Homo sapiens: one gene and its partner. The protein of the gene in region 1 interacts with the protein of each later gene in a pairwise test. Each region holds a gene or a part of one and is shown in the gene's direction. Other genes may lie near its edges.

What was found.
Region 2: the proteins of ZNF326 (region 1) and KPNA5 interact in binary tests that used the Homo sapiens proteins (3 or more experiments, as listed by UniProt).

Annotation. Positions count from the first base shown.
Region 1 is NC_000001.11:90,012,110-90,015,609, forward strand, and holds part of ZNF326 (DBIRD complex subunit ZNF326), read left to right. Parts: intron 1-1,016; coding exon 1,017-1,128; intron 1,129-3,500. UniProt on the Homo sapiens protein: Core component of the DBIRD complex, a multiprotein complex that acts at the interface between core mRNP particles and RNA polymerase II (RNAPII) and integrates transcript elongation with the regulation of alternative splicing: the DBIRD complex affects local transcript elongation rates and alternative splicing of a large set of exons embedded in (A + T)-rich DNA regions.
Region 2 is NC_000006.12:116,726,211-116,729,710, forward strand, and holds part of KPNA5 (importin subunit alpha-6), read left to right. Parts: intron 1-284; coding exon 285-412; intron 413-3,352; coding exon 3,353-3,500. UniProt on the Homo sapiens protein: Functions in nuclear protein import as an adapter protein for nuclear receptor KPNB1. Binds specifically and directly to substrates containing either a simple or bipartite NLS motif.

The DNA of each region.
Region 1 (3,500 bases):
AGGCATGAGCCACTGTGCCTGGTCCAAACAAAAATTTATATATGAATGTTTATAGTAGCATTATTCATAATTGCCAAAAGGTAGAAACAATTGAAATATACATCAACAGAAGAATGGTTTAAAAAATGTGGGTTATTCATACAATGGAATATTATTAAACCATAAAAAAGGAAGTACTTACTAATACATGGTACAACATGGGTGAACTGTGAAAACATGCTAAATAAAAGTCAGACCAAAAAGGCAACAGACAGGATGATTCTAGGTATATGAAATACTTAGAATAGGCAAATCCGTAGATCAGAAAGCAGATTAGTGGTTACCAGGGCCTTAGGGTAGGGTTGAAATGGGGAGTGACTGCTTTATGGGATGATGAACAGTTCTGTAACTAGATAGTGGAGATGGTTGCGTAACTTTGTGAATGTACTTAATGCCATTGAATTGCACATTTTAAAATGGTTAAACTAGTAAATCTTATGTTTTGTGTATTTTATCACAATAGAGAATATTTTTTAAAAAAGAGAACAAATTTGCTTTTATTTTGGAGGTTACAAATTTTAAGAAACTTTCTGAGAGCTCCTACAATATGAACATGAGTTCTTGCATCCAGGGCTCTGCAGTGTTTACTGGACTTCCATTTTCATGCTCGGTCAGGTTACTTTAGTGTTTTTCCCAAAGTATGTGATGCCCAAGATGATTTTAGGTGATAAGGATATTATTGCTTAGAATAAGGATAGGACAAATGAGCACATTTAAAGAAAAATATGTAGCAAATAATCACATAGATGACAAGCAGATATGACAGAATTCATGATGATGGTATTCAAATGAATGAAGTTCATTTAGTGAAGTTTCAGAAATACTGGATAGTCTCAAACTCCGATTTTTTTGGTGAGTTCAATTTTAGATTACAATCACTAAGTATACCTCATAAGTATGTACTTTACGAACTGATGATTGGAAAGAGAGAATGGAAAAATGAATTTTAGCTTTTACTTTTTTGTGTAATATCCTAGCAAAAACTGATCCTAAAAATGAAGAGGAAGAAAAGCGGCGAATTGAGGCTCGGCGAGAGAAACAAAGGCGCAGAAGAGAAAAAAACAGTGAGAAATACGGAGATGGATACAGGTTTGTACTTAGAGTCAGAAAATTAGGTTCATTAAAAAATGATTTCCTAGAAAAAGCCAACACATCAATTGTAATATTAAAAAGTTCTTAAGATTCAAATGAAAAGACTTGTTCAAAGATACAGAGGAATGCTTTTGGTTTTTGATATTTATATGTAATCACTACTTAGAAAACATAAGAAAAAAGGCATTCTATTCATATTGGCAATCCAAAAGATATCAAATATTCAGAAATAACAGTATTCTTAAAAAGAAACACTTGTCATTGAGATTTGACTGTATGGAGTCATAGTGATTTTCATGGGCAGGAATTAAATATTACAAATATGTAAGTTCTTTCCAATCCAGATCCCAAAGGAAATTCTGAAGAAGAGTAAATGAGTAGGTACTGGCTTTTATAGATAATCAATCATTAAAAAGCTATAATAGTTAAAAATATGTGGTAATACACAAAGCTAATTATTATACCAGATTAGCCTGTGAACAGACTGTAAGGAAGAATGTAATATTTAATAAAGAGGATATTAGAAATAAGAGGGGAATTGGGCTAGGCACAGTGGCTCATGCCTGTAATCCCAGCACTTTGGGAGGCCGAGGCGGGCAGATCACGAGGTCAGGAGATCAAGACCATCCTGGCTAACACGGTGAAACCCCGTCTCTACTAAAAAAATACAAAAAAAAATTAGCCAGGTGTGGTGGGTGCCTGTAGTCCCAGCTACTCGGGAGGCTGAGGCGGGACGATGGCGTGAACCCGGGAGTCGGAGCTTGCAGTGAGATGAGATTGAGCCACTGCACTCCAGCCTGGGCAACAGAGCGAGACTCTGTCTCAAAAAAAAAAAGAGGGGAATTGGTTGAACAATGAAATAACAACAAAAATCAGTTTAGAGCCTCCTCATATGACACCTGGAATGAATGTAGTAAAAAAAAAATGAAATTACAGAAAAACAAAATGTTCTGCAAGGAGATTTTTTTCCCAGGCTTAAAAGTTATAGAATAAATTACAAAGGAAATTATGAGCAGATTTGGCTAAATAAAAACTTAAAATTTGAAAGGAGTGCAAACAGACTTGGAAAATATAAACATGAGAAATGATTAATGTCCAAGTTAGATTAAAACATCACCCAAATTATTTTAAAAAGTAAGAAAACTAAGCTGTTTAATATGATGAGGAAACAAAAAACAGCTAGTAATAATTTTAAGGAAATTGTTTAAACTTAACAGTAATTTCATTAAACTAAAAATTTAAATAATAGTATGCCATTTTATTACTAAGGAGAAATTTGATTTGCTAATTAAGGAATGGTCAAAGGACGCTTAAAATTTGTTGGTGACAGTATATTATAACTATTAGCAATTTAGCAGTTTTTTAAAAATGTCTAAATTTTTCTTAAAGCCTTGAGCCCAGAATTTTGAGGCCAGCCTGGGCAACGTGGCAAGACCTCATCTCTAAACAAAACAAAACAATCCATAAAAAGAAGAGTAGTTCTAGTTTCAAGAACTACTGCTATTTTTAGTCCTTGTGAGTTCTCTGTCCCATTCATTATCTCTTGTGATTCCTTCTTTTGGTAGAAGTAACAGGCATAGTTAATATTTTGGTGTAGAAATGACTTTAAATTATCAGCGTCTTGGAGTGTAAAAATCATTTTACATTATAAGATGCAATTTTTTAAATTTAATTGCCCTATGAGTACTTTTCTCATGAAAAATTTTAGATATGGATTATGTTCATGTTAATATAATATATAAAATTGTGATATAGAGAAAATGAAAGAATTGAACTTTCATTTAGCTATTTTCTCTGTAACTCTAAATATAAATCTGATGATATAACCAAAAGAATGTTAACTCATAAATTATCATTTTAGGATATAATTTATTTAAAGTAGTCTAAGTTATTTTCATTTATCAGAGCAGTTTTACTTTGAGTTATGAGGATTCGAGATTGAGTAAATCACTATTCTTGTGATAGGTTCCTTCCCTTGGATATTTGAATGCTTCCCACATAATAAAGCACATGGAAAGGTTTATATCTACCCTTAAGGGAACCTAGGGAGAAAGAGATGGATGTGTGAGAGATGTACATAAATAATAGTGTATGGTGAAGGATACCAGGAGTACAATGTAGTCTCATGAGATATAACTTCTAAATAAGGGTATAGGAGACCAAGCATGGTAGCTCATGCCTGTAATTCCAGTACCTTGGGAGGCCAAGGCAGGCGGATTGCTTGAGCCTAGGAGTTCAAAACCAGCTTGGGCAACATGGTGAAACCTCATTTCTACAAAAAATACAAAAATTAGCCAGGTGTGGTGGCACGTGCCTGTGGTCCCAGCCACTTGGGAGGCTGAGGTAGGAGGATAGCTTGAGCTTGGGAG
Region 2 (3,500 bases), on another chromosome or scaffold:
CTTGTGTCAGTGATTACTTATCCATTTTGATCAGTCACATGGCTTGTGCTTTATCATCTCTAAAATTTATATTTTGCTATTCTCCAGTCTTTAAAAAGCTAATTTCCTATGTAAAAAGAAAAATATTTGAAAAGTTTGCTGACAGAATAGAAATTAAAAATTTATTTTAATGTCAAGGTTCCAAAAACCTTGACATTTTGAAGCCATTGAGTTTCAAGATTTTTTTTACTGGTAATATTTTAGAAACAGTATTTGTACTGATTATATATTTTTCCCCCTCTCAGGCTGTTATAGATGCAAATATTTTTCCTGTTTTGATTGAGATTCTTCAGAAAGCAGAGTTTCGTACCAGAAAAGAAGCAGCTTGGGCTATAACTAATGCAACATCAGGAGGTACTCCAGAGCAAATAAGGTATGATATAAACTTCTTAATTGTTTTTTACATGTAAATGAGACAAAAGTTGAAATAAAACATATTTTAATTTACTGATGGAACTAAAATATTATTTCTAAGTCAGTTTGATAATATGAAATGACAGCATGTATTATATCAGTTACTCATTCACAATTTTTTTTTCCCCATTTAACGTGTAATTAACATCATTCTCCTTGATAGGCTGCTTAAGAAAAATCAGAGATTAAAAAATCCAAACGGGAACGGTCTATGTTAATTTGCAGAGTACACTGTCATGGGCATTAAATATTTTTTAATCACAAAAATATAGCTTTATTATATAGAAATGGCTAATAAATTTGAATATCCACTTACTTTAAATAAAATTGAAATAGACATTGTTTATATGGTGATGTTCTGGTCCTCATTGATTGTTAGCCTTGCCTATGGATAGTATCTTTTATTTTTCTATACTAGTTACCTTTTTTTTATATTAGCTTTTTGAGTCTAGGCTTTTTAAATTTATTTATTCTGCTGACAATGTAAATAATAGGTGCATGGGCTTTTAAGTCAGCCTGATTTCAAATCCTGCTCCTTCAGTAAAAGTTGTGTGGTCTTGACAAAGTCATTTAACCCCTCTAATCTAGTTTCTTCATTTTAAAAAATGAGTTCCAGTAATGAATAGTTATGGCAGTGTAAGTCAGCCTTCCATATCCTTGGGTTTTGCATCTGTGGATTCAACCACCTGCAGGTCAAAAATATTAAAAAAGAAAAAGACAGTAAAAAATGCCAGTACAACACTACAAAATAATGCAAATTTAAAAACACAATACAACAATTAGTAACATCATAGCAATTACATTGTTTTAGGTATTATAAGTAATCTAAAGATAATTTCAAATACTTGGAAAGATATGCATAGGTTGTATGCAAATACTATGCCATTTTATATAAAGGAATTGAGCATCTGTGGATTTTGGTATTGAGAGGAAGGGTGTCTTGGAACCAATCTCCGATGAAACCGAGGGACTGTATCTTGATAGTTAAGTGAAATTTATGTCTTTGAAGTGTCAGCACAGTGCCTAAACATATTATTAATAACTAATAGATAATTAAGAATAGCTACTGTTATTATTTGTAATCATCATAATTTTTATTATCAGTATTGATTCCTGAATCTTTTATCATGTACTTTCACTCTTTTTTATCTCCCATAGCAAAGTTTCACTTACACCTCTACTAAAAGCTTCTACAGAATCGTCTTGTTCGGAGGATCCCTCCATGAAACTAGACTTCTTAGAAAATATTTTCTAATGCATATTTGATTTATTTTTCAATTTATAAAACAAGTCAAACTACAGTGCTATTTTATAAATCACATAATTTTGAAATCTACCTATTGTGAAATTGTCGTCTTTTATTGCCTTCATTTGTAGTATTATCTTGCTCTCTCAAATTTGTATAGCTGTATATTGCTAGCATCTGTCTCTGCCTTTTATTTTCTATTCTATCTCTTTGCTTTCATCAGTATTTCCACTTTGTGTCATGGATACAAGCAGTAATAAATGAAGACCCTTCCTTTGTTCTATTTTGTATTTTTTTAATGTTGATGTTACTTTTATTTTATTTGGGCTGCAAGTTTGTTCACCTGCAAATAGTTGTATTTTTTCAATTAATTTTTGTGGTTATATCTATTCTGTATATTATTGCTTTAATTTATTAGTATGGATTAAGTATCCAAACTGAGATAATTATTTTTCTAACCACTTTTATCATTTCATTAAGTTTGCATATTTGGGAAAAGACCTCTTGATCTCAGATTAAGTTATGCATCCATACCACTAGTTGAGTGCCTACTATTGCCAGTTATTGTGCTAAGTAAGTCATTTCAGTTATTGAGCACCAGCAATGTGTCTGGTACTTTCATGTATTTTATCTCCTGTAATCTCTTAACTATGAGGCAGTTATTCATTCAACAGATATTTTTGACCAATTACAGTACAGTATAGGGCAAATGAGTGCTCTGGTGAAGGTATATACATCTTTTTTTTTTAAGAGGGACAGAAACTTTTATTAAATGTCTATTGTGTTCTTACAACTACTCTCTGAAGTTGGTACTATTATTATTCCCATTTTTAAGATGGGGAAACTGAGACACAGAGTAATTGCTCAAGGTCACACAACTAATAAGGGGTGGAATTGGGACTTGAAGGCACACAGCCTGGCTTCATAGTATGTTTTTAACCTTTGTACTTAATATGGACTTTTTGCCAAGTGAACAAATCAGTTACTTCATTTACATTATAGAGTACAGAAAACCAGCCAATAACTAGAAAAGGACATGCATTCAGAAATTAAAGAATTTTTTTGTGAATATTATTTATGAACATTATTCACAAGAGAGCCTGTTTTGTTCCTACAGGCCTTCTATCCTTCTGAAACACAGTATATGTTTCAGAACATTAGCTGTGATTGTTTTTATGGGAAATTTTCTCAAGTTTAATTTAGATGTCTCTTCTTTCTTTCCATTTCTGTCTACCCCCATATGACCTCCGTGTGTGTGTGTGTGTGTGTGTGTGTGTGTGTGTGTGTGTGTCTGTGTGTAGGCTTGCCTTTAAAAAAAAAAAAAAACAACCTTTCGAACCTACGTTTAATGCTCAGATGAGCACCATGAAAAACAGGCCGAAGTACCAGTTTGTGTCTGTATTTTATAGTCTTTGCAAGACCATTTATTGCTAATTATGTTAAATTAGAGAATAGGTGAGTAAAGAAAATTTTAAGTTTCCTATGTGAGAATTTAAATGTGTGTAATGTTTGCATTTGTATAGGAATACTTTTTCTTAATTGCTTATGTAACATTTCACTATGAAAAATATTTTTGTGTCATTGTTACAAACAGTACTTAAGTCTTTTTAAATCTTTTTTTCCCTGTTTCTTCTCTTTTATATTAATCTGAAGGTATTTGGTAGCTTTAGGCTGCATTAAACCACTTTGTGATCTTTTGACTGTTATGGACTCCAAAATAGTCCAAGTGGCTTTAAATGGACTTGAAAATATTTTACGTCTTGGAGAACAAGAATCTAAGCAGAATGGAATAGGCATTAAT